3 separate regions of the Homo sapiens genome follow, and regions 2 and 3 are each linked to region 1. Evidence: fine-mapped expression QTL. A gene starts in region 1. Each other region holds a variant in brackets. All regions are shown on one strand. Distances are from middle to middle. Region 1 holds the start of GPER1 (G protein-coupled estrogen receptor 1). Region 2 holds the start of ZFAND2A (zinc finger AN1-type containing 2A). Region 3 holds the start of LOC102723758 (a long non-coding RNA gene).

What was found. PIP is the estimated chance that this variant, and not a neighbour inherited with it, causes the effect.
Region 2: its variant is fine-mapped to the expression of GPER1 in whole blood (TOPMed, PIP above 0.99).
Region 3: its variant is fine-mapped to the expression of GPER1 in whole blood (INTERVAL, PIP above 0.99).

Annotation. Positions count from the first base shown.
Region 1 is chr7:1,083,211-1,093,549 of GRCh38, reverse strand. It overlaps GPER1 (G protein-coupled estrogen receptor 1), which reads right to left and starts at 5,437. Exons shown (of 2, transcript NM_001098201.3): 1 at 5,229-5,437; 2 at 1-2,143. The coding sequence starts at 1,821. The coding sequence ends at 694. All of the region lies in intron 2 of CHLSN (cholesin), which reads left to right.
Region 2 is chr7:1,155,266-1,165,604 of GRCh38, reverse strand. ZFAND2A (zinc finger AN1-type containing 2A) reads left to right here and starts at 5,409. Exons shown (of 5, transcript NM_182491.4): 1 at 5,409-5,641; 2 at 7,348-7,447; 3 at 7,855-7,949; 4 at 10,021-10,152. The coding sequence starts at 7,393. ZFAND2A-DT (ZFAND2A divergent transcript) reads right to left here and starts at 5,231. Exons shown (of 3, transcript NR_110069.1): 1 at 4,982-5,231; 2 at 3,062-3,253; 3 at 1-1,444. RefSeq lists enhancers at 4,253-4,765, 4,766-5,279, 5,280-5,792, 5,793-6,307 and silencers at 4,871-4,920, 4,931-5,470. The variant G/A (reference allele first, on the strand shown) is at 5,264.
Region 3 is chr7:1,107,869-1,118,207 of GRCh38, reverse strand. The region is part of intron 2 of CHLSN (cholesin); the gene reads left to right. It overlaps LOC102723758 (a long non-coding RNA gene), which reads right to left and starts at 5,433. Exons shown (of 4, transcript XR_007060183.1): 1 at 1-5,433. RefSeq lists enhancers at 608-1,807, 7,177-8,017, 9,420-9,963. The variant TA/A (reference allele first, on the strand shown) is at 5,502.

The DNA of each region.
Region 1 (10,339 bases):
GAGCAGACGGCGGGCGCTCCACAGAGGGGCCTTCCTGCTGCTCCGGGCCGAGCGCTGCTGCTCCTCGTGGGCCTGGTGAGGCCGCACAGCGCCATTGCTGCCATCCTGGAAGATGGAGGACGCTCAGGCGTGCACCAGAGCAGCATGTTTTCCTTCTCCTCTTTAACTCGGCGGTGCGCTAGCTAGCTCAGACCGTGGGCACAGAGGACACACCGCGACGTCCAGCTCAGACCCACCAGCACCTTGCATCTCCAGCGTCAGTTCCCCCACGGTGGCAGATTTGCTTTAGGGTTCCTGTGTAACTGAGGCGCTTCACCCACAGTGGCCTCTCCGTGTGGCTTTCCTGGTCGACGGTGTCAGAAATGTTTCCTGCAGCGGCAGGCAGGTGCAGCGGCAGGCAGGGTTGGCGGGGAGGAGCTGGGTGACAGGCTGGTCACCGCTGGCCTTTGGACCCTGCGGGGCGAGCGCTTTGGGATTGTAGCAATTCTGTGTGAGGAGTGCAAGGTGACCAGTCGTGAGGTTTCCTAAGCAGCCCCAGGGTGACCAGGCAAGCGTGACCCTCGCGAGGCCCCGAGGAGCCAGAAGCCACATCTGACCGCAGTTTAGAGACATGACGTGGCCGTGCCTTGTGTCCACCCAGGTGTGTGCAGCTCCCGAGTCACACCCTGGCTGGGCCTATGCGGCCAAGGCTGTCTACACGGCACTGCTGAACCTCACATCCGACTGCTCGGTGCTGTCTGGAATGACGGCCTTCAGGGCAGCGTGACAGAAGCGGTTCAGGGCCGGCAAATTTGTTTTCTGCTCAATGTACAGCCTCAGCTTGTCCCTGAAGGTCTCCCCGAGAAAGCTGTAGATGAGGGGGTTTAGGCAGCTGTTGGAGAAGGCGGCGAGGTTGACAATGTGGCCCGTGAGGGGGTGGGCATGGCGGAAAGACTGCTTGCAGGGAGCGGCCCCAGGCTGCGTCCGCTGCAGGAGGTGCACGCTGATGAAGACGTTCTCCGGCAGCCAGCAGACGAAGAAGACCAGCACCACCGCGAGGATCATGCGGAGCGCCTTCTGCCGCCGGGGCCGCAGCCCACGGTGCCGGTGCGCCCTGACCAGCACCCGGACAATGAGGGAGTAGCACAGGCCGATGATGGCGAAGGGCACGATGAAGCCCAGCGTGACCTCGAGCCACTGCACCTCCCGGACATCCGCGAAACAGAAGCAGGCCTCGTCGGTGTGCTGCAGGTGCACGGCGGTGAAGGGCACCAGCGTGGCTGACACGGATGCCATCCAGATGAGGCCACAGCTCAGCCGGGCGTGGTGCTTGGTGCGGAACAGGCTGCAGCGCATGGCCCTGGCCAGGGCGATGTAGCGGTCGAAGCTCATCCAGGTGAGGAAGAAGACGCTGCTGTACATGTTGACCTGCAGGAAGAGCGACATGAAGGTGCACAGGACGGCGATGTCGTAGTACCGCTCGTGCAGGTTGAACACCTCAATGAGGGAGTCGGCCACCAGGATGAGGTCCGCCACCGCCAGGTTGATGAAGTACAGGTCGGGGATGGTCATCTTCTCGCGGAAGCTGATGTTCACCACCAGGATCAGGATGTTGCCCACAAAGCCGATGGGGAAGAGGAAGATGGTGTAGAGGCACGAGAGGAACAGGCCGATCACGTACTGCTGGTGCTCCGAGAGCTCACCTGTCCCATTGGCCAGGGCGGTGCCCAGGAGCGGGTGGGACAGGTTGAGCTCGGGGGAGGTGGTGTTGGGGGCCGCAGGCTGCGCGGTGCCTGGGTACATCTCCAGGCCCACGCCCCGGGCTTGGGAAGTCACATCCATGTCTCTGCACCGTGCAGCTTTCAAGATTTGCCGAAAGGCTCCCAGAGCTCTGTTTTAAATGGTGAATCCATCTTTAGAAAGAAGCGTGATTCTCCTTGAAGTGAGCCTGGCATTTGTCAGACAGGAAACTCCCCAGGAGGAGCACCTGTGGTGGTTTGGGTTGGGTTTGTTAACTGCAGAGAGTGGGAAGAACAGATGCTCCTCACACCGGCATGGTGCATCCGTGGAGGCGAGGGCCCTCCGCGTGCTCGTCCGGCGGGCGTCCCTGCGGGTGTCGGCCACCGTGCACAGTCCCGCGTGGAGCTGCTCACTCTCTGGGTACCTGGAGAAGCAACAGGAGAGGATGAAGTCTCATCGAGTGGCCCCAGCTTTGGGACAAGGCCTGGCTCCCCTGGCCGGGTGTCTGTAGAGTCTGGGTGTGTCAGGAGCACTGGGGAGGGCCAGAACCTCAGCTTTATGAGCTCGGGAGGTGGCTGTGGTTGAGCTGAGGTGGAAGAGTCGCCTGTGGGAAGTACATGGCCTTCTTTCCTGCAGGTCCCACGGCTGCTCAGCTGCAGCTGGAGGCTGGACGTGAGTCACTCCCACAGGCAGGGGTGTTTTTCCCTTTATAGCCACAGAGCAGGCCCAGGAAGCAATGAAGGTATGGGCACGGCCGCCCCAGGACAACGGCATTTGTGAGGAGAGGGGAAAATGCATTTCAGCAGCTGATGGAGAAGTAAGATAGGAAGGGAAAGCCAGTGTTTCTGAGAGAGAGAGAGTGGGTCCAGAAAGCTGGACATCAGAGCAGAATCTTCTCTTACGATAAAACAGAAGTTCAGCGGTTTCCTCATGCTAGTTCTGTGTTCTAGGTACCAAAAATAAACTTATTTTCGTAATATAGAGTGAAAGGGGTCATTGTTTTGGGAAATAATATGTACGTTTTTATTTCATGTTTTAACAAATTATTGTAAAACCTAATATGTTTTTGCAATGCTGTTTGTAACCTAGGAAGAAACTCCAGGGAGAGAGTCCCTCCCGAGCTTATCCTCTGCAGAGAGGGAGAAGTGGGCTGTCCGCCCACGGCGGTGCCCGGGCTCTGCCGCCAGTGGGGAGGGTCCCGTCACCCACCCCGTGTCACCCTGGCTCTGCCGCCAGTGGAGAGGTCCCGTCACCCGCCCCGTGTCACCCCGGCTCTGCCGCCAGTGGGTAGGGTCCCATCACCTGCCCTGTGTCACCCCGGCTCTGCCGCCAGTGGGGAGGGTCCCATCACCCACCCCGTGTCACCCTGGCCCTGCTGCGAGTGGGGAGGTCCTGTCACCTGCCCCGTGTCACCCCGGCTCTGCCGCCAGTGGGGAGGGTCCCGTCACCTGCCCCGTGTCACTGTGCTCCTGGAAGTTCTCTATGCAGCGGGCCACGGGGGTCTCAGCCTGCAGACACTGGCAGTCTCTGGGGATGCGGGGGCAGTCACAGGGGGGTGCTGGTGGGGCCAGGGCTGCCGCTCAGCTCCCTACAGTGCCTAGGACAGGTGCCCAAGCCCAGCAGAGAATTACCTGGCCCAGATGGTGCTGGTGCCCTGGAGTAAACTAACACTTCAAAATGGGTTTGAGTTGTTTTTCCTTTGGGAATTTTCATTTTACCTTTTGAAATCATTAGGAGTTATTGTTTTGAATGTTTTTTTTTTTTGGTCACCCAGGTTGGAGTGCAGTGGCACAATCTCGGCTCACTGCAACTGCCGCCTCCCGGGTTAGAGTGGTTCTCCTGCCTCAGCCTCCTGAGTATCTGGGATTATAGGTGTGCACCACCACGCCTGGCTAATGTTTTATATTTTTAGTAGAGATGGGGTTTTACCATGTTGCCCAGGCTTGTATCGAACTTCTGACCTGTAGTGATCTGCCCGCCTTGGCCTCCCACGGTGCTGGGATTACAGGTGTGATCCACCGCGCCGGGCCAGGGGTTATTGTTTTGAAGTGCTGCAAAACCAGACTAGAGATTTGTTGACCTATTGCTTGAAAATACTTACTTAAAAAAAAAAAAAAAAAAAAGGCTGGCCTATAATCCCAGCACTTCAGGAAGATGAGGTGGGAGGATTGCTCAAGTTCAGGAGTTCGAGACCAGCCTGGGTAACATGGCGAAACCCTGTCTCTACTAAAAAAAGACAAAAAAAGTAGCTGGGCATAGTGGTGTGCGCCTGTAGTCCCAGCTACTCGGGAGGCTGAGGCAGGAGGATCGCCTGAGCCTGGCAGGTAGAGGTTGCAGTGAGCCAAGATCACACCACTGCACTCGAGCCTCAGCCGAGATCACACCACTGCACTCGAGCCTCAGCCGAGATCACACCACTGCACTCGAGCCTGAGCTACTGCAGTGAGGCCCCATCTCAAAAACAGGCGGGTGGGGAAGACAAGATGAATCACTGCCTCTGTGTCAGTTATTCTAAAAGTACTGAATAACCTTCACTTAGCTGGGGCTGGTGAATTTGATTTTGGTTATTTTGCACTCTTGATTCATCTTTAGTAGATAATACCATTGAACAGCATAAATGCCTCTGCTCTCAGGCTCTGTCGGGAAGGTTGAAAGACTCCGCATTTCGCCTCTGTATTTAATTTCTTAAAAACGGCACAGAGGACTTGTTTTGCTCTTTAAATGTAGAAATTTTGGAACGTATTAGACCGTGGCGTGGCAGGAAGTTTAAAGGTGGGCAGAACCCTCAACTTAACGTTTATTTTCTTTCCTAATTTTGTTAAATGAACTCCAAGGGAAAAATAGTTTAAAAACGAGTCATTCATTTCTTTCCCATGTAAATTGAGTCTTTTGATCGTTGCCAGACACCGAGAAGATACGGGACCTGGTGTCTGATGTGTCCTAGTGTCTGATGTGGTCCTGGGTGAGAGGAACCTAGTGTGCCATTCACCACTGGCCCCACGTCCTCACTGGAGGTGGCCATGGAGTTATAAACAGTGCAATACCTCATTTCAGATTTCCTCTGCTTGTCATAGAGAAATAAAGCCACACTTTAGTCAGCTGTATTAAGTCTGCATCTGTCAAAAGGCGTGTGGCCCTCCCAGGGCTTCAGGGTTGGTGAGAGTGACTGGGGCACCGCAGGGCAGGGCAGAGTGGGCACCCTCATTTTCTTGAAGTGAGACACGTTCTTGCTGGGACAGAACGTGACGGAATACTGGGTCCTGCTTTCAGCACGAGTTAGAAAGGCCGTCCAGGCAAAGCCCCTGCTGCGGTCACGCTGAGACCACCGGAGCTCCGGGGGAGAGGGGTCTGTGCCTTGAGTTTGGGAAGCTGGGTGCTGCTCTCACCAGGGGGTGAGGTGTCTGGTCTGTGTTCAGCTGTTCCCATAACAGGACAGCGGCCTGGGTGGCACCACCCACCCGCTCCCCTAGTCAGTGGTATGGCACCGCCAGGCCGAGGCTGAGTCCTACCTGGGTTGCAGCCCCTTCTGTGCTCCTGGAAGCCTCCTTGGTCAGGCCCATCAGGCTGGAGGTGCACTTGGAACCCGCTGCAGGAGGTGTACCTCTGCTGGACCTGCCGAATGCCTGAGCAGGGCTAGAGAGAGGAAGAGACCCGCCCTGGGAGCCCGCGAGGGAAGGTTCCCGGCTGGCTGGCGGGTGCGTCCTCCCTCTGAGCCAGTGAGTCTGCCCCTTGGCACAGGGCTTTATAGGCCCCCTCCGCCCCGCTCCTCTCTGGCTCCTCTCTGGCCAGGCTCTGGGCGGCCTCCTCAGAAGGCTAGTGTTAACCATTTTTTTGCTGGCCCTTTTTCTCCCACACTTTGGCAATCAGCTCAGTTCTACTAGACTTGTTTTTGTGGAAGTTTCTGGTTTAACTGCTTTTCTTCACCCACAGATACAAACCTTTCTTTAAGTTTGAAGGCATCATACTAGGTGTTGTGTATCTTTTAGGCAATAACCTGTCCTCCTGGGTTGAAGCAAGCAATATTCTTGTTTTTGCAACTGACCTGCGTTAAACACTAAATTTCATAATTAACTTAGTAGCATGTGCATGATCCATAAAGAATTTAACAGGAATTTCACAGACATTTGCAGAGAGAAGTGTAATCCCAAGAAATAGGCATTTCTGACAAGTAACTTAGGAATCTGAGTACTGGTTAAGCATCTGGAAATCTGAAATCCAGAGTGCCCCACAGTCCGACACTGTTGGAGCGTCGTGACACAAGTGGAAAATTCCACACCTGACCTCGTGTGGCGGGCTGCAGTCCAGGCAGTTCAAAGTTTGTTTTATGCATGAAATTGTTAAAAGTGTTTTTATAAAGTTGCCTTCAGGCAGTGTGTATAAGGTGTGTATGAAACACAAATGAATTTCGTATTTAGCTTTCTCATTCTGTACCTGCAGATATTCCAAAATCTGCAAAAATCTGAACTCCGAAACTCTTCCGGTCCCAAGCATTCAGACCAGGGACCCTCAGCCGGTAGTTTTCTCTGAGTGTTAGCGGTGCCTCAGGTCCCTCCTCCCGCGCTCGCTGCAGAAGCGTCGGAACTTACCTGCCGTCCAGATGTTGGTGGCCTCTTCCCCACCAGGGCCGCCTCTCCTGCTCATGGTTGCGGATTTCACAGTCTCGTGCAGGCGGAGAATAAACCTCCCTCCCCGGACTCTCGGGGCCGCTGAACTGCCTCATGCGGGGCGGCCACTTCCGAGTGCGCCCCCTACTGGCCATTTGAATTTTCACTCGCCGCTTCGGGAACCGATGGCCGCCCCATGAGGGCAGAGCGAGGCCCCCCAAGCCCGCGTGGGCTGTCCAGGCCGAAGGGGTCCTCAGGCACCGCCAGCCCCGGCTCTCCAGGCGGAGGGGTGGGTCTTCCTCAGAAGGGAACTTCAGCGAATCTCACTCCTACTTCTAGGTGTCGTTTTCCCTCTGTAATGTTTTGAAGTGGTGAGATTGAATGCTGAGTGATCCTTTGTCCGCTGAGTATGAGTAATGCGGCTGCTGCAGCCTGAGGCGTGGTTCAGAGACCTGCGTGGGCTCCCCCCTTCCCCCTCCCCCCCAGGAGAGCTGGTGCAGGCAGAGGACTGGGGTGCTGGGCCTCCAGGTGCACTCGGCCCCTCGGGACCTGCTCCCCGCCAGGAGAGCTGGTGCAGGTGCAAGAGTGGGGTGCTGGGCCTCCAGGGGCACTCGGCCCCTCGGGACCTGCTGGGGCTCAAGGCATCTGTGCAATAGCAATTTAAAGTCTTTCAGATGTGTATTTTAGGAAATATACACACATTTCCTAAACAGAATGCTGTGTTAATTTTTTAATGGAAAAATACTAACGTGGAGTTTTCTTCCAGCAGTAGAAAGTTGACAACTCTAATATGTACCTTTTTGTATTTGGATGATAAAGAGCTGATTTGCTCTTAGACATTTTTTGACCAGCTGTGAAGTTGAGATGATTTCAGCATTAAAAATGCCTGAGACACAATTTTGAAAGATGTGAGTCATGAGAAAGTACAGAAAAAAATAAGTAAAATAAAAATTCAAACCTTGAAATAGCTGAGACATGTCACTTAAAAATAGCTGCACCCTGCTAGTGCAAACCCATGGCTTCTGGTCTCTCTGCCCATCCCAGCGGCTGAGGAAGAGCTCAGCTCCCAAGCTCTCCACTCACGTGCCCTGGGTTTCCTGGGGAGCCTGCCCTGGGCGGGCGAGTGGCCGATACTCCTAGATTTCCTGCTTGCAGCATAGAGTCAGCGGATCGGGGCATCTGGGTCTTGGAGCGCAGCCTTCTCCTGTGGGCACTGGGCGGGTAAGTAACTTGTACTGTACAGCTACTGATGTAAGAGACAGGGCCCGGACTGCAGGAACTTCCGTCTCCAAGACCTACTTAATACTTGATGTGTGACGGCATGGCAGGAATCTCGTGGACTATTTGTAAGGCATAGAGACCTTTTGCCGATTTTTAAATCTTTTTTTTTTTTTGAGACAGGATTTTGCTCTGTTGCCCAGGCCAGTGTGCAGTGGCCTGATCTCAGCTCACTGCAGCCTCCACCTCCCAGGCTCAAGCCATCCTCCCACCCCGGCCCCTGAGTAGCTGGGACTACAGATGCGAGCCGCTAATTTTTTTTTTTTTTTTAATTTTTTTGTAGAGATAAGGTCTCACTGTATTGCCAAGGCTGGTCTTGAACTCCTGGGCTCAAGAGATCCTCCTGTCTCAGCCTCCTTCAGTGTAGAATGTGACATTGTACACATGCATGCTGGGCGCTGTGCGGTGCTCTGCGTGCTTGATCTTAGGTCACCCTCCTTCAGAGCCTGTGAGGCAGGGCTGTCCTTCTCCCCGTCTCATGGTTGCAGAAACTGACTGCAGGGAGGTGGTGTCACCGCGGCCTCACAGCTGGCCAGGAGCAGATCTGGGAGGGGCCGGCTGACTCTGAGCACATGGTCTCGGCCTGTACACCAGAGGCGTCCTGGGTCAATAGTCATCTTTTCAGGCACTGATTTCCTTGTTGGATCTGATGTCGTTATGAATTTTTAAGAAGTGAAAATATTTTTCTGTTCATCCCCAGGATAGAATAAAAGGAAAGAACTTCAAGGGGAATTTCATCTGATCATTGCTTATTGAGCTAAATGCACACATAGCCAAATACTGGATAATGCATAGAGAAAAACACGCACAAAGTAAGGCAGTGTGTCTCCAGCTTCAGGAGCCCTCCCGAGTGAATGCCACGTAGGAAACCTTGGCCCTCGCCTTTGACCCTTCAGTCCTCGCGTGCAAAGCCCAGTCCTTGTGCTGAGAGGCCCCAGACACAGGGCCTGCAGTGCCTTCCCAGCGCCCCTCCCTCTGCCAGCACTGACTGACTGAGCAACCCCTTCCTGCTCCCTGTCCCATCCCCAGTCCTCTCCCATGCCCTCCATGGTAGGCAGCAGCATGGGTCCCCCTGATTCTGCAGGAGCAGAGCCCTCAGGGAGTTGCATGTCGCCGTCCAAACAACCCTGGTTTTCAGCGTTGCCGGCTCCAGCCCGGGTTCCACTTCCTCACCCCACGTGCTGTGTGATACCGGGCAACGTCTCTAACCTTCCTGAGCCTCAGTGCCCATCTGTACAGTGGGGGTGCGTGGGTCTACACGGTTCTGTGAGATCCCACACACCCCTTGTCTCTGCTGGGCGGAGTGAGGCTTCCCTTCCCACCAACTGCTGCTCCTTTTCAAGGGGAGCGGTCCACCAGGGGCAAGGGTGGGGCGGCACTGCCTGAGATTAGCCCAGTCCTGGCTCATTCGCTTCTCCCCCATAGGCACAAGGGAGGGAGCAGTTGGTTGGAGGTGCTCACAGTACCACGCGCCGGATCCACCTTACAGGGGAGACATCAAGCTGTGTGCAGAAGGAATTCTAGAGCTAACACATGCTGGAAGACAGCCCGAGGTTCGGAGAAGTGCGCCGTGTCTCACATGCCAGGCGGACACATTCTCTGATGATGGAGAGTCAAGGGAGGCCGAGAGCCCCTTCCCACGCCCCCGGGAGGGCATCGCTGGCGTCCCCCGCCTCCGCGTGACATGCAGGAGCACCCTCGGGCATCCGATCCTCACAGGCCTGGAGCATTAAGGAGACATGCACCAGCAGCCCCTTTATAGAAAGAGCCCAGGTCCCAAGGAAGCTGTGTGTGGGGTGTGCGGGTTTTGCCGCACCAGTGGCAGGCGGGGTTGGAACTCTGCTCCAATTTCTGCATTCCGTGCCATATCCTGACTTTAGGGACATCCTGTGACCTCCCCTCAGACAGACTTGCCATGTCTTCCATCTGTTCCATTCCGGCCTGGGGAGGTTAGCTGCTGTCAGGACGTGGTGCGGCCCACAGTGACTTCGTCTCTCTTGTTCCTTCAGAAGCACGCAGGCCGTGGCTCCGCGCCAGGTTGGAGCCTTTCATTCAGGGTGTGTGCCTGCCGAGCCCGGAAACAGTGCGGTGAGGGGCAGGGCATCCTGGTTTTCTGCTGTGTCGCCTGGCACTGGTGGACGTGGGCGCGTCGGTGCCGCCGTCCTGTCCCTGTTTGGTGTCTGCAGCTGGAGGGCCCAGTTAACGGTGGGTGTGTGCAGACCACAGTTGACCACAGCATGCTGAGCACGGAAGCTCAGGTGCTCCCGTCGTCTGCGCCTCCACACTCTCGTGTTTTTTTTTGTTTTTTTTGTTTTTTTTTTGAGATGGAGTCTTGCTCTGTCGCCCAGGCTGGAGTGCAGTGGTGCGAACTCCACTCACTGCAAGCTCCACCTCCCGGGTTCACACCGTTCTCCTGCCTCAGCCTCCCGAGTAGCTGGGACTACAGGCGTCTGCCACCAGGCCCGGCTAATTTTTTGTATTTTTTTTTAGTAGAGATGGGGTTTTACTGTGTTAGCCAGGATGGTCTCGATCTCCTGACCTCGTGATCCACCCGCCTCACCCTCCCAAAGTGCTGGGATTACAGGCTTGAGCCACCGCGCCCGGCCCACACTCTCATCTTCTATCACTTTCCCTCACAAGACGGAATTTGCTGCACTCAGAGACCATCTGGCCCGTCAGCCCCTGGGCGTGACTCCAGCACTGAAGGCGCGTGCGGCTGCTGGCCTACAAGGCATTGG
Region 2 (10,339 bases), 72 kb before region 1:
GGAAGGGTTTCACCATGTTAGCCAGGCTGGTCTCAGACTCTTGGCCTCCAGCGATCCGCCCACTTCGGCCTCCCCAAGTGCTGGGATTACAAGCATGAGCCACAGTGCTCAGCCCAAATCCTGGCTTCTAAATGCCACCTTCCATAAAGGAACCAACGTCCCTAGGGAGATGGCTGACTGCAGGGTTGGAGCAGGGAGAGAACAAATGACCCTGGAATATCTGAGGCCAGGAGGTAAGGAAAAGTGCAGAGAAGGACGGGGACACGTCAGCACTCGGGAGCCAGCGTGAAGGGGCGCTCACTCACCAACTCTGGGATGTGAACATCAAAATAAATCATGACTGCAATAGAATACTTCCCAGTGAATGAGACAGAACTCTGCATCCATATGGTGGTGACTATAAACTAACAAATAAATGAGTAAGAAAATAAAATCTCTCCTTTACAGTAGAATGCCAACTAAAGGTGTAGAAGAAACTATGGAAATTATTTTAAAAAGCACCACTGGGCAACAATCAGAGGGCTTCAGGTAGAAGTCACCGATGGAGGTTAAGGTGGGTCTGCAGAAGTTTCATGAATAAGACAATGGTTGTGATGGTGAACTGAAGGGTGGCTAGATGGCTGGTATTGTTTCTGGTGTGATGGTGCTCCCAGAGAGACTGAAATTTGAGTCAGTGGACTAGGAGAGGAAGATCCACCCTCAGTGGGGGTGGGCACCCTCCAACCGGCTGCCAGCGCGGCTAGAACAAGGCAGGCAGAAGAAAGTAGGTAAGCTAGCTTGCTGAGTCTTCTGGCTTTCGTCTTTACCCCATGCTGGATGCTTCTGTCCATTCCTCCTGCCCTTGGACATCACACTCCAGGTTCTTTGGCCTTCCGGCTCTGGGACTAACACCAGTAGCTTTCCGGGGTCTCTGGGCATTTGGCCACAGACTGAAGCCTGAACTGTTGGATTCCGTTTGAGGCTGTTGGACTCCGGCTGAGCCACTGCTGGCTTCCTCGCTCCTCAGCTTGCAGATGGCCTGTCATGGGACTTTGCCTTGTGATGGTGTGAGCCAGTTCTTCATAAACTTTCTTTCATATGTACATATATCCTATTAGTTCTGTCCTTCTGCAGCACCTTGACTAAGACAATGCTGTAATCTCAGAATGTCTTCCTGGAAAATACGAATCAACTGACAAATGAAAACACGGTGTCTTCATTCTGGCAAAACCCAGCAGACACCAATACCACCAGGGAATTGAGATAAACATAACCCAGGTAGAACTGGCTGGAAGCCTGTGCCCTGACATGAGGACTCAGGACACGGCACCTTCTCTGCAGTCCCGCCAAGAATATAAGATCCATCCTAGGTGTATGAGAAGTCTTTGCCCTTTAATAAGGATGGGCGTCTGCAAAGACACATTCCAGTTTGGGGAAAGCTGAAACTGTGATAGTGGATGAGATCCTGGAGCGGAAAGGAAAAGAGACATTGTTGATACTGTCTGTAAAATCTGCAGGAGGCTGAGGCAGGAGCATCGCTTGAACCCAGGAGGCAGAAGTTGCAGTGAGCCAAGATCGCACCACTGTACTCCAGCCTGGGCGACTGAGCGAGACTCCGTCTCAACAACAAAAAAAAACTGAATGGGGTCTGAGAATCAGAACTTAGTATTGTTTCTTTTCTTTTTTTGAGACAGAGCTTCACTCTGTCAACCAGGCTGGAGTGTAGTGGCACAATCTAGGCTCACTGCAACTTCCACCTCCCAGGTTCAAGCGATTCTTCTGCCTTAACATCCTGAGCAGCTGGAATTACAGGTGCGCCGCGCCCCCCACCACACCTGGCCAATTTTTTTGTTTTGTTTTGTTTTGAGATGGAGTCTCACTGTTGCCCAAGCTGGAGTGCAGTGGGGCGATCTCAGCTCACTGCAACCTCCACCCCCGAGATTCTCCTGCCGCAGCCTCCCGAGTAGCTGGGATTACAGGTGTGCACCACCATGCCCGGCTAATGTCTGTATTTTTACTAGAGAAGGAGTTTCACCATACTGGTCAGGCTGGTCTCAAACTCCTGACCTCAGGTGATCCACCCGCCTTGGCCTCCCCAAGTGCTGGAATTACATGCGTGAGCCACCGTACCTGGCCACACGTAGTTTCTTGATTGCAAGAAGGCTGTCATGTGCCTAAGGGAGAAAAAGACGTGCTGATCAACTTCAGTCAGGCATGAGTGACAGAGGTACTGGCCATGAATTCCATGTTAATGAATCAACTAGACATTATTAAATAAGGAACCTTGAGAGAGAGACATGTACAACAAGGTTAACGATGAACTGCTTAACAAAAATGCTGTGGCCAGCGGCTCGGAGGAACCTGACTCTGTATTTCCCCGGGAGCCAGTGCCTATGGGTGTTACTCACCAACACTCACGATAATTAGATGATTCCAGGTTTCCTGCGACTTTGCAGAACTATCACTGAGCAACGCAAGGTGAAACATAAGCAGGGCCACTCACGTTTGCTTTTTTCACAAGGTCAGACTTTTATTGATACTTAATCAGAAAAGCCGCAACTACACAGGTTTCCCAAGGTGGCAATTCCCCTTAGCACAGCCCGTTCACTCGGTGGCCACAGCCCCGGGCATTCAGGCTCAGACCACTCCACAGGTGAGTCAACACTGCAAACCAAAGATAGTAGTAAACTTAATACATAAATGTTACAGATTATGGATTAAAATGTCCACTTACATCAAGAGAAAAGGGGGGCAGGCCGGGCACAGTGCCTCACGCCTGTAATCCCAGCACTTGGGGAGGCCAAGGCGGATGGATCACCTGACCAGCCTGGCTAACATGATGAAACCCCATCTCTTCCTAAAATACAAAACAATTAGCTGTGCGTGGTGGTGTGTACCTGTAATCCTACTTGGGAGGCTGAGGTGGGAGAATCACTTGAACCTGCAAGGCGGAGGTTGCAATGAGCCGAGACCGAGTCATTGCACTCCAGCCTGGGCAACAAGAATGAAACTCTGTCTCAGAAAAAAAAAAAAAAAGAAAAAGAAAAAAAAAGAAAATGTGGGTAAAACAGGGTTAACGAACCAGTCCAAGGAGAGCGATGTGGCCAAGGAGGAGGTCCTGCACTGATCCAGACATCTTGAAAGGTGGGAGTCCGGGCCTGGGCAGAGCCTTCAAGGGGAGATGTTGTGTGATTGGGAGGGACAGCAAGATGGAGCCAGTCACCACCGCCGTGCAGCTGGTGAGGTCCTGCTCTTTTCACAGCCCTTGAGTTCTCTGGTGAAAACCGAGAGTAAAGACTGTACAATAAGCCGGGCACAGTGGCTCATGTTCTGTAATCCCAGCGCTTTGGGAAGCTGAGGCAGAGGGATCACCTGAGGTCAGGAGTTCAAGACCAGCCTGGGCTACATAGCAAAACCCCGTATCTACAAAAAATACAAAAATTAGCCAGGCATGATGGCGCATGCCTGTAGCTCCCGCTACTCAGGAGCCTGAGGAAGAAGGATGGCTTGAGCCTGGGAGGTGGAGGCTGCAGTGAGCTGTGATCATCCCAGTGCCCTTCAGCCTGAGCCACAGAGGAAGACACTGTCTAAAGAAAAACAACAAGCTGGGCGCAGTGGCTCACGCCTGTAATGCCAGTACTTTGGGAGGCCGAGGCAGGCAGATCACCTGAGGTTGGGAGTTTGAGACCAGCCTGACCAATATGGAGAAACCCCCGTCTCTACTAAAAATACAAAATTAGCCGGGCCTGGTGGTGCATGCCTGTAATCCCAGCTACTTGGGAGACTGAGGCAGGAGAATCGCTTGAACCCAGGAGGTGGTGGTTCCGGTGAGCCGAGATCACACCACTGCACTCCAGCCTGGGCAACAAGAGTGAAACTCCATCTCAAAACAACAAACAAAAAACAAAACAAGAAAAAGCATGCCTGGTTGTGTCTGTCCTTACCTGATTGGGCATGGTCTCTATTGATTAGGCGACCATCTGGTCTGGTTGGCACGACGCTTTTTGGGTTTGAGGAAGGGTCTGCTCTGCTGCCCAGGCTCTAGTGCAGGGCGCATTCACAGCTGACTTATGCCTCCACCTCCCAAGAGGCTGGGACTGCAGGTGCATGCCACCATGCTGCGTTCATTTCTTATTTTTGTAGAGACAGGGTTTCGTCATGTTCACCAGGCTGGTCTTGAACTCCTGTCAGGCCTCTGAGCCCAAGCTAAGCCATCATATCCCCAGTGACCTGCATGTATACATCCAGATGGCCTGAAGCAACTGAAGATCCACAAAAGAAGTGAAAACAGCCTTAACTGATGACATTCCACCCTTGTAATTTGTTTCTGCCCCATCCTAACTGATCAATGTACTTTGTAATCTCCTCTACCCTTAAGAAGGTTCTTTGTAATTCTCCCCACCCTTGAGAATGTACCTTATGAGATCCACCACCTGCCTGCAAAACATTGCTCCTAACTCCACCGTCTATCCCAAAACCTGTAAGAACTAATGATAATCCCATCGCCCTTTGCTGACTCTCTTTTCCGACTCAGCCGGGCTGCACCCGGGTGAAATAAACAGCCTTGTTGCTCACACAAAGCCTGTTTGGTGGTCTCTTCACACAGACATGTGAGACACTAACCTCAGGCCATCCTCCCACCTCGGCCTCCCAAAGTGCCGGGATTACAGGCCTGAGCCACCGTGCACCGTCCGGCTAATATTTTATTTCTGCAGAGATGGGGTCTCGCTATGTTGCCCAGGCTGGTCTCCATGTCCTGGGCCCACGCCCTCCTCCTGCCCAGCTGGGCGGGGTCTTACCCAGGCGGAGCCCCTTACGTGCAGGGCGTTCTGTGCAGTGACCGCGGCCCTGGGCAGAGCCAACCCCACGCGGCCACATAACCGTCCAGGGGGCGGGGGGCAGCGCGGTGAAATGGAAAAGGATTTAACTGGGGGATCTAGGTGCTGGGGACACTGACATTTTCGGTATTATTCTTGAAGCTTTTCCCTAAGTTTGAAATTACCTAAAAACACGTTGTTTTGAGATGGAGGCCTCCTGGGGCCCGCAGGATGCGCGGCCGCGGGCGGGTGCCCGGGGCGGGAGGCGCCGGATGGGTCGCTAGGCCTCCTCCCTCAGGCCGGCCTCGCGCTCCTACCCCGCAGGACCCCGGCCGCAGCCCTGAGTCAGCTTCCCCGCTCCTCGCCCGCCCGGCTGCGCCTGCGCGGAGCCGCCTCACTGTGACCCAGCAAGCGCGCCGCCTGCGAGAAGCGACCGGACACTTCGAGAAGGGAAGTGGAGAAGCGAG[G/A]AGTGGGCGGGCCTGCGGGGCGCGGCGGGGCGGGATTGGCCGGATGGCTGGTGTCGTCTTCGGTGTGCGCCGGCGCCACTGGGCCGCGGCCTGGCGGGATTGGCCGGTCTGCGGGTGACGTTGTCGGGGCGCGCCCGGAAACCCCAAGGCCCAGACGGCTCTCAGATCCGGGGGCTGCGGATAAATCCCCGTAGGCCGCGGGCAGCGAGATGTTGCGTTCCGGTGTGGGTGTGGGTGTGCCTCCGACGGCGTCTCGGTGCCAGTGTCGAGGTTCTTTCTGCTTAGCTACCCGGAGCCGACTACGGAGGAGGACACCTGAGTTTACGTCTCTTCCATCTGCTGCTCACCTCAGCTGCCTGGGTCCCCGACGAGAGCCAGGTACGGGGCCGGGATTGCGCAGACAGGGTCTGCCGGGGGTCGGGCCTGCCTTGAGGTCAGGTTGCTCGGGGGTTCGGCCTGTCTGCTAGGAGTGCGGCTGCTGAAAGTCCGGCTGCTTGCTGGAGGTCAGGCTGCTGGGGGTCCGGCCTGTCTGCTGGGGACCGGGCCTGCCGGGGTCTGGCTGCTGGGGGTCCGGCCTGTCTGCTGGGGACCGGGCCTGCCGGGGTCTGGCTGTTGGGGGTCCGGCTGTCTGCTGGGGACCGGGCCTGCCGGGGTCTGGCTGCTGGGGGTCCGGCCTGTCTGCTGGGGACCGGGCCTGCCGGGGTCTGGCTGCTGGGGGTCCGGCCTGTCTGCTGGGGACCGGGCCTGCCGGGGTCTGGCTGTTGGGGGTCCGGCCTGTCTGCTGGGGACCGGGCCTGCCGGGGTCTGGCTGTTGGGGGTCCGGCTGTCTGCTGGGGACCGGGCCTGCCGGGGTCTGGCTGCTGGGGGTCCGGCCTGTCTGCTGGGAGTCCGGCTGTCTGCTGGGGGCCGGGCCTGCCATCGGGGCCGTAGTACCGGGTCGCACGGGGTCGTTAACCCGCCAGCCGAGTGACAGCCACGTAGATGTGTGTTTTCTTGCTGCGGGCCCGGCCCGCCAGGGTAGGGTGTTGGTTTCCTAGGACGGGTGCTGTGCGTCCAGAACAAAATCATTTGGGGATTCACATCAAACTCTTGTGAATTCCTTGAACAAAACAATTTCGGAACGCCTGCTGTGTGTCGGGCACCGGGAGCTAATAGTAAAGCAGCGGATCTGTAGTTGGAAGCTGTGGGCGAAGGAGGGCTGGGAAAGGACTAATGGGCACCTTAAGTAGCGGGCGTGTAACATAGAGGGAACTGGGGAGGGTGGGAATGGCTTTAAACTGAGGCGGGAGGGGATAACTAGACGTTTGCCATGGGCGAGAGTGTTCCAGTCTTAGGCGACAGTCTAGGAGGCCTCCAGGAGTGGGGAGAGAGCTGATGGGAAGGTCAGGAAAAGGCCCCGGGAGGGGCTGGTGAGTACTAGATGACGGGACCTCGTGAGCCCCAGGAAAAGGCCCCGGGAGGGCTGGTGGGTACTAGATCATGGAGGGGACCTCGTGAGCCCCTTGATTCTCTCTCGAGTGCGGTAGTTTCACCAGCTGTCTGCCTGTTTTCCATAGTGACTTAACAGCTTGCGCTTCTCCCTGATCAACTCCAGGTTGATGTCATCGAGGAATAAGTTCACAGTAAGATTCAATGCCTAAGGGAGTTGAAGAGAGAGGCGAGGGACAGAGTTAAATCTTCTCTGGATAATGGAGTCAACTGATGTGATTTAGCACCTAGTAACAGAGTTTTGTTTATGTGAACAAGTATATTCCATGGATAAAATTGTGACTTAAAATTCACCAAAGTCGTAATCATCACTGGCAGCTGTGTGAATTAGCTCTCGCCCCCTCAGTGTGAGTTTAAATAGAAACCCGAGTTCAAGGAGTGCTTCATAGACTAGGAATTAAAAGGCCTGTGAAGGAGTCCGTGTCTCTTAATGGGGTTGACTACGAATGGCGGACACCTGGTATTTGTACTAAAACTCCATGGAATGCTCCCCACACAGTGCGTTTGTTGACTTTCATTAGCTGTAATTACATTGTAAATCCTGGTGACTGAAGGGCAGTCCAGCTTTCCTCCTAACTATTCTGATTCTCTTGTAGGTGACACTTAACTCCGCCATCTGCGTTTTGAGCACTGTTCTCATAATGGAGTTTCCTGATTTGGGGAAGCATTGTTCAGAAAAGACTTGCAAGCAGCTAGGTGAGTACTTTTAAGAGACTTAATAGAAAATGGTATTTTGTTGGGGGAAAGCTGGCTGTTCTGTTAATTAGCTGATAATTGTGTCTTGGCCTTCCTGGCTCCTCAGTATTGGGAACTGTGCTGGTGCAGGTTCTGTTTGACACTTAGCATCCACCAGAGGCTGGGTGCAGGAGTGCAGGCTGGCTAGCAGGGCCAGGTGGATCCAGGGGGCTGCTGGAATACTTGCGATGCCATAGGGGGTCTCTAGAAGACAGCCTGACCCTGGGATTGTTTTCACATGTGTGGCCCTCGAGGACCTGTCCATCTCATAGGCCTAAAACACTTAGTGTAGGTAAACACTTTGATAGTACTATCTGGAAGTATTTTGTTCCAGTCGTTAAAACACTTCCCTGTTTTTTGTTTTTTAGATTTTCTTCCAGTAAAATGTGATGCATGTAAACAAGATTTCTGTAAAGATCATTTTCCATACGCTGCACATAAGTGTCCGTTTGCATTCCAGAAGGTAATTGATCCTTTGTTCAAAAGATTCTCATCTTCACCGTCTGAAGCTGCACTGTCTTGCTGGTATGGTAGGGACTAGCGACGTATGGCTAACTCATTGAAAATTAAATTTTAAAATCCAGTTTTTCAGTCCCACTAGCCTCGTTTCAGGTGCCTGCTGTTAGGCAGTACAGAGGAGCGTGTCTGCCCTCACAGGACATTCTGTTGGATGACTCTCAGACAACTGAGATCTTATTTTCAGGGACTCATGGAGTCACTTAGTTGTAACCTTATGTTCCAAGCTTACTTTAGATGTTCAAATACTTGGTTCCTTTGATCTGTTACACCATAGCTGTTACACCATAGCTGTGTCTTCACCAGATGCAAGAAAGATTTTAATATTTGACTTGGAAGCCAATCAGGAAGGCAGTAAATACGCTTATTGATTTGAATAACTGCAGCCTTGACATAGTATTTAGGTGACTCCCAGAGTACACAGCAGAAACTGAAAGAGGACCTAAGGAAATGAGCTTGCCCCGAGTCCAGAGGTTTGAGACTTGTTGTTGACTTTTCAGATGGTTCCCAGCCCGTGTTTACTTTGTCTCTGGATGGGTCACAGGTCATTTTAGTGAACTCTGCCACTTGACCGTGGTGGCAGTGGTAATGTGGGTGGCCCAGCATTCTGTGCTTTGACCAGTGTTGGCCAGGGTCTGACCCTCCAGCCATTTTTAGGCCATCACGGTGGGTGGGGAGGGTGACTCACATTCCCTGCGTTTACTAGGCACGGATGACTAAGCCAGACTGCCCAGCTTGTCTTCCCACTGCCCCTTCCTGCCCCAGCATGGGGTGGGGTCTGGCTGGAGACCGTTTACTAATACTTTATTTCATTTGACCAAATGAGGAAGCACCACCACCTGTGACTCTCCCAGCTCGGGCTGTAGACGGGTGTGCTCATAATTCCGTGAGCACCTGCCACCCGTTCCATGTCGGTTGCCACCTCGGTTTTCTCATTGACCTTTCCATCAATTCCTGCCCTGGCTCAGGTTTTTAGCCATGCTGGGCGTTAGCTGCTGGGCGGTCCACCCCTTCGGAGCCCCCAGCTCAGGTTTTTAGCCTTGCTGGGCCTTCAGCTGCTGGGCGGTCCACCCCTTCGGAGCCCCCAGCTCAGGTTTTTAGCCTTGCTGGGCCTTCAGCTGCTGGGCGGTCCACCCCTTCGGAGCCCCCAGCTCAGGTTTTTAGCCTTGCTGGGCCTTCAGCTGCTGGGCGGTCCACCCCTTCGGAGCCCCCAGCTCAGGTTTTTAGCCTTGCTGGGCCTTCAGCTGCTGGGCGGTCCACCCCTTCGGAGCCCCCAGCTCAGGTTTTTAGCCTTGCTGGGCCTTCAGCTGCTGGGCGGTCCACCCCTTCGGAGCCCCCAGCTCAGGTTTTTAGCCTTGCTGGGCCTTCAGCTGCTGGGCGGTCCACCCCTTCGGAGCCCCCAGCTCAGGTTTTTAGCCTTGCTGGGCCTTCAGCTGCTGGGCAGTCCACCCCTTCGGAGCCCCCAGCTCAGGTTTTTAGCCTTGCTGGGCGGTCCACCCCTTTGGAGCCCTCACAACCTTGGCCTGCAGCCAGTGACGGTCGTTAGTACCTGGGAGCTCACCCTAGGTACACGTGGCCTCATCTGGGCGCAAGCAACTCTCTGTGTACGTAGAAGCCACTGGGGAAACCGCAAAGGGATCAGGCCGTTGGCGACTGAGGGGAGCTGGAGGGTCTTTGTGGTCCATGTTTCCCTCCATCTCCTCCCTGTGGAGGTGTCTGGGCAGGCTCTGTTCTCACCTGGGCGGTGCCAGCCTGAGATGGCCCCAGCTGGTTTCTGCAGTCGGCTGAAGTCCATTCGTTGAAACTTCACTAGACTCCTCAGGGCAGCTGATGCCCACATTCTAGAGATGGCTGCCGCTAATCCATGACCCAGTGATGCTTTGTTCTCGGAGGGCTCGGGAGACCGGTTTTTGTCCTCTCTTTGTGTTTAAGTGTGCCGCACAGGAGTACTCGTTTAAAACTTCTGTGAGTTTAAGTTGCATGAGTCTCAGATGCCATCTTACCTTTGTTATTTTTAGGATGTTCACGTCCCAGTATGCCCACTCTGTAATACCCCCATCCCAGTAAAAAAGGGCCAGATACCAGACGTGGTGGTTGGTGATCACATTGACAGAGACTGTGACTCTCACCCTGGGAAGAAGAAAGAGAAGGTAAGGACAGAGCCCGCCTCAGTTCCTTCATCTGGGAAGCCTGGTTTTTCCTTGGGAAGAGTCAGTTTGCTACCTGAAAATTACTCCCAATAGTTTATGTACAAAGTAGAAAAGAAGAGTCCTAACGCTGCGTTATCCCTGTCCTAAACTGCGAGGGGCCTGAGTTTTCAGTTTTATAAATGTTCTT
Region 3 (10,339 bases), 25 kb before region 1:
TAATATGACCATATAATTCACATTTTCCAAAGCAGAACTACTTTTTTGTTTCTGGCTTAACCCAGAAGCCTGGTGTTTTCATATTTTTGCTGGGTAAGCGTTGTGCTGTGGTTTTCTTGTTTTGGTCTCAGTTGAATTCTGAAGGAAACATAGTGTGGCTCTCTGGATGAGAAGATGGGCAGCATGTGACACTGGCAGCATTCCCGTAGCAGGAACGATGGGCTTCCTTTTTGTCTGTTTTTGAATAAGCACAGGCCTGTGGTCCCAGCTTCTAGGGGGGCCGAGGTGGGAGGATCCCTTGAGCTCAGGAGTTCAGGGCCAGCCTGGGCAATGTAGCAAGACCTGGTCTCTAGAAAACAAAACAAAATGAAAAAGGCGTGTGGGTGATGGAAGCTGGTCGGTAGAGCCGTAGCGATGTCATGCTGCGTGGGCGTCGGTGATGGAAGCCGGTCCTAGAGCTATAGTGATGTCATCATCCTGCGTGGGCGTTGGTGATGGAAGCCGGTCCGTAGAGCTGTAGTGATGTCATCCTGCATGGGCGTCGGTGATGGAAGCCGGTCCGTAGAGCTGTAGTGATGTCATCATCCTGCGTGAGCGTCGGTGATGGAAGCCGGTCCATAGAGCTGTAGTGATGTCATCATCCTGCGTGGACATTGGTGATGGAAGCCGGTCCTAGAGCTGTAGTGATGTCATCATCCTGCGTGGATGTCGGTGATGGAAGCCGGTCCGTAGAACTGCAGTGATGTCATCATCCTGCGTGGGCGTCTGTGATGGAAGCCGGTCCGTAGAACTGCAGTGATGTCATCCTGCGTGGGCGTTGGTGATGGAAGCCGGTCCGTAGAGCTGCAGTGATGTCATCATCCTGCGTGGGCGTCGGTGATGGAAGCCGGTCTGTAGAGCTGTAGTGATGTCATCATCCTGCGTGGGCGTCGGTGATGGAAGCCGGTCCGTAGAGCTGTAGTGATGTCATCATCCTGCGTGGACGTCGGTGATGGAAGCCGGTCCGTAGAGTTGTAGTGATGTCATCATCCTGCGTGGACGTCGGTGATGGAAGCCGGTCCGTAGAGCTGTAGTGATGTCATCATCCTGCGTGGGCGTCGGTGATGGAAGCCGGTCCGTAGAGCTGTAGTGATGTCATCATCCTGCGTGGGCGTCGGTGATGGAAGCCGGTCCGTAGAACTGTAGTGCTGTCATCATCCTGCGTGGGCGTCGGTGATGGAAGCCGGTCCTAGAACTGCAGTGATGTCATCATCCTGCGTGGGCGTCGGTGATGGAAGCCGGTCCTAGAACTGCAGTGATGTCATCATCCTGCGTGGACGTCGGTGATGGAAGCCGGTCCGTAGAGCTGCAGTCATGTCATCATCCTGCGTGGGCGTCGGTGATGGAAGCCGGTCCCTAGATCTGTAGTGATGTCATCATCCTGCATGGGCGTTGGTGATGGAAGCCTGTCCGTAGAGCTGTAGTGATGTCATCATCCTGCGTGGACGTCGGTGATGGAAGCCGGTCCGTAGAGCTGTAGTGATGTCATCATCCTGCGTGGACGTCGGTGATGGAAGCCGGTCCGTAGAACTGTAGTGATGTCATCATCCTGCGTGGGCGTCGGTGATGGAAGCCGGTCCGTAGAACTGTAGTGATGTCATCATCCTGCGTGGGCGTCGGTGATGGAAGCCGGTCCTAGAACTGCAGTGATGTCATCATCCTGCGTGGGCGTCGGTGATGGAAGCTGGTCCTAGAACTGCAGTGATGTCATCATCCTGCGTGGACGTCGGTGATGGAAGCCGGTCCGTAGAGCTGCAGTCATGTCATCATCCTGCGTGGGCGTCGGTGATGGAAGCTGTCCCTAGAGCTGTAGTGATGTCATCATCCTGCATGGGCGTTGGTGATGGAAGCCTGTCCGTAGAGCTGTAGTGATGTCATCCTGCGTGGGCCTTGGTGATGGAAGCCGGTCCGTAGAGCTGTAGTGAAGTCATCCTGCGTGGGCGTTGGTGATGGAAGCCAGTCCCTAGAGCTGTAGTGATGTCATCCTGCGTGGGCGTTGGTGATGGAAGCCGGTCCGTAGAGCTGTAGTTATGTCATCCTGCATGGGCATTGGTGATGGAAGCCGGTCCCTAGAGCTGTAGTGATGTCATCATCCTGCGTGGGCGTCGGTGATGGAAGCGGGTCCGTAGAGCTGTAGTGATGTCATCATCCTGCGTGGGCGTCGGTGCTGGAAGCCGGTCCGTAGAGCTGCAGTGATGTCATCATCCTGCGTGGGCTTTGGTGATGGAAGCCGTCCCTAGAGCTTTAGTGATGTCATCCTGCGTGGGCGTTGGTGATGGAAGCCGGTCCTAGAGCTGTAGTGATGTCATCATCCTGCGTGGGCGTCGGTGATGGAAGCCATCCCTAGAGCTGTAGTGATGTCATCCTGCGTGGGCGTTGGTGATGGAAGCCGGTCCGTAGTGCTGTAGTGATGTCATCATCCTGCGTGGGCGTCGGTGATGGAAGCCGGTCCGTAGAGCTGTAGTGAAGTCATCCTGCGTGGGCGTTGGTGATGGAAGCCGGTCCTAGAGCTGTAGTGATGTCATCATCCTGCGTGGGCGTTGGTGATGGAAGCCATCCCTAGAGCTGTAGTGATGCCATCCTGCCTGGGCGTTGGTGATGGAAGCCTGTCCGTAGAGCTGTAGTGATGTCATCCTGCATGGGCGTTGGTGATGGAAGCCGGTCCGTAGAGCTGTAGTGAAGTCATCCTGCGTGGGCGTTGGTGATGAGGAGGGTGGATGGCGTCTGACCTGGGAGGTGATGGGGAGCGCCTCCTGATTTCCTGTTCTCTGTGTTAAATAGCAAACATCCCCTGGCGCCCGGTGAGGGCGAGCCTGGGGGCTGGGTCTGTGGTGGGGCGTTTCCCGAAGGGTGGGCAGTGGCAGGGCCGGGGCCGTTTCTCATCTCAGTGAATGCCCAAGAAGTGTTTGGAGAAATTTAACACCCAGACATGATGAAAATCAAACAGTTTCTTCCCTCTCCCCAAGAAACACTCCTAAAAAACAGCAAAGATTTATTATAAAATGAGGCATATCTTTTTGGATCTTATTTATCTCAAAAGATGAGAATTTTTAAGCAAGTAGAGACTTTGAATTGTCTCCGCCAAAGCATGAGCTTTCACTTTTGTGGACTGCAGTCTGGTAACAGACATGCCCACGGTATCCACAAAGGCGAAACAGGACCCCCACAGGCATCTCAAACAGGAAGGGGTTTAACACAGGGAGTTTGGTGCTTATGGGGTTGCTGGGAAGGCTGCAGAGTGACCATGGCTCCCACCCACGTCCAACCCTGCAACCCTGTGAGAGCAGCTGCTTTGTGCGGGGCAGGGGCAGCTCTCCTGCGAGCCCCTCCACCTCCCCTCCTGCCCCGTGGGGCCTCAGACACCTGCCCATCGCCCGGGCAGAATGGCTCCCGGGCCACCCTCGTTTCTGAGCCCTGGCTCACCCCGCGGTTTGGGCCTGGCGATTCCTTGCTCTTGTCAGCCCTGGTTTGCTGGTGTTCCTGATCACCATCTCTTTCCCTCACCCATGGGAGAGCTGGCCTCAGTCCTTCCGTAAAGGCCAGCTGGGGAAGGGGGTAGCCCTTGGGCCCCGCGCCCATCACGGCCTGTGGAGCAGGAACAGCGTTAGGCCATGAGCGGCCGAGCGGGGGCAGCCGTGTCCAACCAAAGCTGATTTACCCACAGAGGCTGCCGGGGACTTGACCAGGGGGCTGAAGTTTCATTCTCCGAGTCTAAACATCGAGTCCAACCAAGGCAGAAACAGCACTTCTCCAGGCTCACCACAATTCACGCTGGTGACAGGGGCGCATTTGCCTCTTTAACCTGCAGCTTAGGACCTGCGTCTGAGGTCACTCCCCAGCTGCGGGCGGCCTCTGCCCTGACAGATCGTGGCACTTAGGCAGCAGGTCTTTCTGCCTCCAGTTCTGCGTCTCCTACCACGTGGAAGAGGCCCAGTGGTTGCACTTTGAGTAAGGAACAGCCCGGCCCTTGTATGGGCCAGTGGCCGCACAGTCTGGCCTGCACCCCTTGGGAAGTTGGCAGGACTCTGGGTTTATTGTGGGAAATGATCAGGGCCGTGTCCTTGCTACAGTGGGAAAGCTTGCCATGGGCACCGCTGCACTGCGGGTTAATTAGGAGAAGAATAGGGCATCAGTGAGCAACAAGAGGACATTTAACTTGAAATATAAAATTAGTATCTATGTCGACGGGAAGTTGAGCCACTGAGAGGTTTGTACTTCTTTCTGAGCTCGGGCCTCTCCATTCGCTCCCTGGAGACAAGTTTGAGAAGAGCCCCGGAGCAGAGCGTGGCCTCCTGCCGTCCAGGCCGGGTCCTGGAGCCCCTTTGCCCCTCGAAGCCTGCCATGGCTCAGAGTTTCTGCACCGCTCCTTGCCTGGCAGTCAGAGCTGGCACCCGCGGGTAGGAATTACAGGCACAGGTGGTGGCTTGGGATGAGGCACGCTGTCGGAAAATCAGTGCTGTCTAAGAGGAGGTAATGAGTCTGTCCTGGGAAATGCTCGGGCTGGGACGAGGTGGGTGTCGTAAGGGCCGCCCGGGAAGGAGTCCTGTGGAGCGTGAGATGTGAAGTAGATGAGCTCCGAGTCCCTGCCCAGCGCTGCCATCCGATTCCAGCTGTTCTGCATCCTGTGGGGCGTGGTGACCCATCAGCACCTCGTGATGCTTACAGAATCTTCTCAGTGTGGACGGTCGAAGCAAGTCCGTGCCCCTGCCATGTGGGTCGCACACCTGCTCCGAACAGGAACAGCACCAGCCTGCAGAGAACAGGAGCAGCTGCTGCTGCCCGGGCGGCGCCTTCTGGGAGCGGGCACTCCTGGCTTTCAGGGCATTGGTTGCTGGGGGACAGTGTGAAAACACAGTACTCAGCAAGCCAGTGCCATCAGGGCGCTCACTCGCACTTTCTCTTAAAGCAAGTTTATGTTTAAAATAACGGTAGATTCTTAGTAAATTAAAAAAAAAAAAAGCATGAGGGGCCTGTGTGGCCTGGCTTCCCCAGGACATCGACGTGGATGCCTCGCACAGAGCTCGTCCAGAGTCCACGGTTGTACGTGCGGGTGTGTGCGTGTGTGTGCGCCCTGCAGTTTTTCCAGGTGCATAGCTTCCTGTAACCACCACTGTGGCGGTCAAGATACAGGAGGATCCTGCACTGCACGGCTCCTGGTGCTGCTGCTTTATAGACCCTTATTCATCCACGGTGCAAAGAACATTTGGATCTCTGGGCTTTGGCTTTTGTGAGTAAAGCTCTGTAAATATGCCTGAGCATACGTTTCCATCGCTCTGGGGTAAGTGCCCAGGACGTGGCTGCCGGGTTGCATGGTGCATGCATGTTTAGATGTTTACGAAGCCGCTGCGCTTCTCCAGAGTGGCCGTGCCGTTTTGCGTTCGCACTGCAAGCACAGCTGAGGCCGGACCCCGCACCCTCACTGGCACATGGTGTGATCGCTTTTTCTTTTTTTTTTTTTTTTT[TA/A]GCCATTTGGATCACAGCACTCCCGTTTCGAAGAGGACAGCCGATTAATGTCCTAGGAATTAGGAGAAGCAGAATTAAAGCTCGTTTGCTTTTCCAAGGCTCGTGATATGTGCTATTGGCCCAATCGTTGCTGGAAGCTGCCAGGTTCCGTGGGACTTTCCTGGCTTCATGTGGGGCCATCCACGGTGTTCCTGTCCGAGGAGGCTCGTTCACCCTGTCTGTGTGGGGCACTCCTGTGGTCTCTTTCTCCAGGAGCCTTTTGGGGGTAGCCGTCCCAGCCACCTTGCCAGGCGTCTCTCAGAGTGAGCAGGTGGAGGCCGGGCCGCAGGGCAGGTGAGCTGTTAGCTGGCACTGGGCTCCCGGCCGGCCTCTCTCATCTCTAAGCTGGGCTTTCTCAGCCTGCTGGTCAGATCCAAAGAACTGCTGAGAAACTGGAGGCTCGCCGGCCTTCCTCACTGCCATGGAGATCTGACCATCCTCATTCTGGGCCAAAGAAAACAGGATCCACTTCCCCATATTCCAGAAAGCCCACTGTTTCCATGTCAGTGGAATTTCCATCTAATGCTGTCATTGCTGCTGTGATCAGCCCAGATGTTTGCCAGCGCTGCTTCTTTGTGGTCAACAGAAACGAACTCAGCAAAATGTAATTTTAAAAAAGTAATGTGTATTATTTTTCCTGAGTTATACATGATTAATGTAAAAGAAATTAGAAAATACAGAGAAATTTATGGAAGAAACCAGAAAGACTGATTCTGCCACCGTGAAATGACGCCGTGGTTAACGTCTGTAGCAGCCGCGTGTGCTGAGGATTTCTGCAGTGGGCATGTTTGCTTTTCCATCCACAGCGAGTCCTCACTCAGTGTCACCCGCCCCGAGGCCCTTGGAAACTGCAACTTTTTTTTTTTTGAGAGGGTCTCCCTCTGTCACCCAGGCTGAAGTGCAATGGCGTGATCCTGGCTCACTGTAGCCTCAACCTCCCTGGCTCAAGTGATCCTCCCACCTCAGCCTCCCAAGTAGCTGGGACCACAGGTTTATGTATCACCATGCCCAGCTAAATTTTGTATTTTTTGTAGGGACAGAGTCTCCCTACGTTGCCTAGGCTGGTCTTGAAATCCCAGGCTCAAGCGATCCTCTCGCCTTGGCCTCCCAGAGTGCTGGGATTTCAGGGATGAGCCACCTCACCTGGCCAGAAACTGTGACTTTAAGCAAAACGACAAACAGCAGGCCCTTGAATAAAGACTGTTTTGTTCAACACCTTTGTGTTATGCCATGGATGAGAATAGTAGTTGGTTTCATTTTATGTCTTTCCCTTAAAGTTGCACTTTGAGAAAACCTTTGCCATCAAGATGGTTATATGAGGCCTGGGCCGCAGCAGAACACCTGCTACCCTGTGTCCTCCCTGGGTGTTGTGATCCAGTGTGACAGGAAGCAGTGATAGCTGGTGATTGCTTTATTTTATTTATTTATTTTAAATAGCAAAACATTTTAATCAGTTAATTCTAAAAATAACAGAGACATGTTATATCTGGTGCCGCCTCCTCAAAAGTTTACCACAGATTAGACAGGCAGACTGCAAAGCACCAAGCCAGACATTAAATGTTTTTTGTTGTTTTTTTTGCTTTTTTCTTTTGAGACGGAGTCTCGCTCTGTCGCCCAGGCTGGAGTGCCCTGGTGCGATCCCGGCTCACTGCAACCGCCACCTCCTGGGTTCAAGCAGTTCTCTGCCTCGGCCTCTGGAGTAGCTGGGACTACAGGCGTGTGCCACCACACCTGGCGTGATTGCTTTAATTTCAGCTTCTAAGATTACGGTTGATGGTCATTTTCCATGTACATATTGGTCATTTGGTTTTTTTTTGTGAATTGCCTGTGTGTGGTTTTTGCTTTTTTTTTTTTAACCACTTCTATTGTAATTTATCTTTTCTGTACTGATTTGCAAACACACTTCTTAAACTAAGAGCCTTTATCTATCCTTCATGTTTCAAATATTTTTCCAGTTGGGCTGTTTGTGTTTATGGCTTTTGCCCTACACAGACAGCGGCCTCCCACGCCCCACAGCGCTGTGGCCGCACAGGCCCCGCGAGGCCCGTGTCCCGGTCTGCTCCCTCGGGATGCGGCCCCATGGTGGATCTCCCCAAACCCCCGACACCCGCTCCCGCTCTGCCCCACGGGAGCCATGGGAAGACGTGGCGGGAGGCGCGGGAAGAGCGCTCAGGCTGCCCAGGCGGCCGTGCCTTCGCACTGAGGGGCCCTTCCCAGCCTCCGTTAGATTTGGAGACCTTGGCCCGGGAGGTGCCGGCGCGGGGAGAGGGGTGAGGGGTCTTTGGTGGCTGGCTTTTCCTCTCGGAGCCGCACCATGAAGATGGAAGCCCTGCTCGGCATCCTTGTCGTCGGAGGACGTGCCTCCCTGATTTTCACAGCGGATTGTTTAGCTTAGCTTTTGTGGTGGTGTGTGCGCTTTCCTTCCTGGCATCTCGAGGTATTCTGGCGGGAAGCTAGGAGCGGCTGCGTGGGGATTTTGCTACCACATGCGCTGGTGCCGCCAGAGCTCTTCCACGGACTGAGCCCTGCCTCGGCCGGCGCGAGGTCCTCTGTCTCCTGTGGGCACCCGCTCGCCTCTGCGCTTGGGGCAGATTTGCGTAGCCTCCGTGTCTGGGCGTGGAGGGCCCGGGAGAAGGTGCCGGCATTGGTGTCCTCCCCACGCTGCCCTCCGGCTCATTACTGTAGCCCTGGACGCAGCCCACGGCCCGGCGAGGCTGCGCTCGCACTGGCATTTGTGGAGAGAGCGGAGGTAGTTAGAGTCTGCCCGTGAGGAGGTGAGGATGGAGGTGGTTGCCTGGTAGACAGAGAGATGTCTTTGCTGGCATCTGGACCGAAAGTCACCCGTGGCGCCGAGACGCAGAGGCACGTGGGAATCGGGAAGCTGTGCTGCCCCAGGGCCCGGCGGGCGGGAAGGGCTCCGCCGCCCACGGAGGGGTGAGTGGGGAGGGCCCGGCGGGGGAGGGGAAGGGCCCTGCTGGCCATGGAGGGGTGAGTGGGGAGGGCCCGGCGGGCGGGAAAGGCTCCGTCGCCCACGCAGAGGTGAGTGGGGAGGGCATGTCCACCTGTTCCGTGTTCGCACCTGCAGACTAAACTCACCGCACCCCAGGGTGTGGAGCGACTGCGTGCTGAGCTGCAAGTGAAATGGAGTGTTACACTGTAGCCTTTACGAAAATGAGCAGTGAAAGAGTTTTTTATATGCTTTTAGGAACCACGCAGGAATGGGGGGCCTCAGGGGCCACGCGTGTCGGCTGGATTCCCAAGGTGATCTTCAGGCCGGTGGTTTTCAGCCTGTTGGGATTAGGACCACTTGAAGGGTCTTAATTCTTTTATTGGATTAAGGTATTTTAAAATTGTTTAAAACAAATACATGCTTGTCATGAAAGTTTAGGTAATGCAGATATATGGAACTTCTGTCAATATGGTGGATTGGTCAACATGGGAAATCGTCCCTTCTGCCTCACACACATAAAAATACTGGAAGAGGCTGGGCGTGGTGGCTCCGAGCACTTTGGGAGGCTGTGGCGGGTGGATCACCTGAGGTCAGGAATTTGAGACCAGTCTGGCCAACATGTTGAAACCCTGTCTCTACAAAAAATAGAAAAATGAGCTGGGTGTGATGGTGGGGCGCCTGTGATCCCAGCTACTTGGGAGGCTGAGGCAGGAGAATCGCTTGAACCTGGGAAGCAGAGTTGCAGTGAGCCGAGTTTGCAGCACTGCACTCCAGCCTGGGCGACAGAGCGAGACTCCGTCTCAAAAAAAAAAAAAAAAAAATGCCTGGGAGAAATATCACAGCCGAATTTTCTAGCATAGTTAATTCAAAAGCAGGTGGTAAAGAAGAGACCCAGCAGCCGCTCCAGTGAGGGGGGTGCACACTGGATGGCCCCCATCGGCATCAAAGCGGGTGCACACGGTAGGGGCGTGTGTGTCAGCAGTGACACGGCAACCCGGGTGATCTCAGACACTCAGGCGGCAGAGAGTGGAACTCAACTGCCCTCCTAGCCGAGAGCCACTTGTCCTTAAAATGGGAGGTACAAAATCCTTTTAGCTGGCGGAGACACATGGCAGGGAAGCTGGGGTGGATAGAAAGCCATCCGCACAGAATCAGAACCCCAGGCAGATTTGCACTGCCCCCGCCTCATGGGAACCCCCAGTTGACAAGTCAGCACACCCGTGCGTTTGGGCCGTGAGATTCGTGGAGTCCGCAGCAGATAGGTGCAAAGCTGCCCACAGGGCCCGCCAAGGAGAGCAGCCCCCCTCTGCTTCCCCGCAGAGCGCGGGACACAGCCCCCCTCTGCTTCCCCCCGGGGTGCGGGACACAGCCCCCCTCTGCTTCCTCCCGGGGCGCGGGACTCCAGTGTGGGACACAGCCCTCCCCTGCTTCCCCCCGGGGTGCGGGACTCCAGTGCGGGACACAGCCCTCCTCTGCTTCCCCCCCGGGGTGCGGGACTCCAGTGCGGGACACAGCCCCCCTCTGCTTCCCCCCGGGGTGCGGGACTCCAGTGCGGGACACAGCCCCCCTCTGCTTCCCCCCGGGGTGCGGGACTCCAGTGCGGGACACAGCCCCCCTCTGCTTCCCCCCGGGGTGCGGGACTCCAGTGCGGGACACAGCCCCCCTCTGCTTCCCCCCGGGGTGCGGGACTCCAGTGCGGGACACAGCCCCCCTCTGCTTCCTCCCGGGGTGCGGGTCTCCAGTGCGGGACACAGCCCCCCTCTGCTTCCTCCCGGGGTGCGGGTCTCCAGTGTGGGACACAGCCCTCCTCTGCTTCCTCCCGGGGTGCGGGTCTCCAGTGTGGGACAC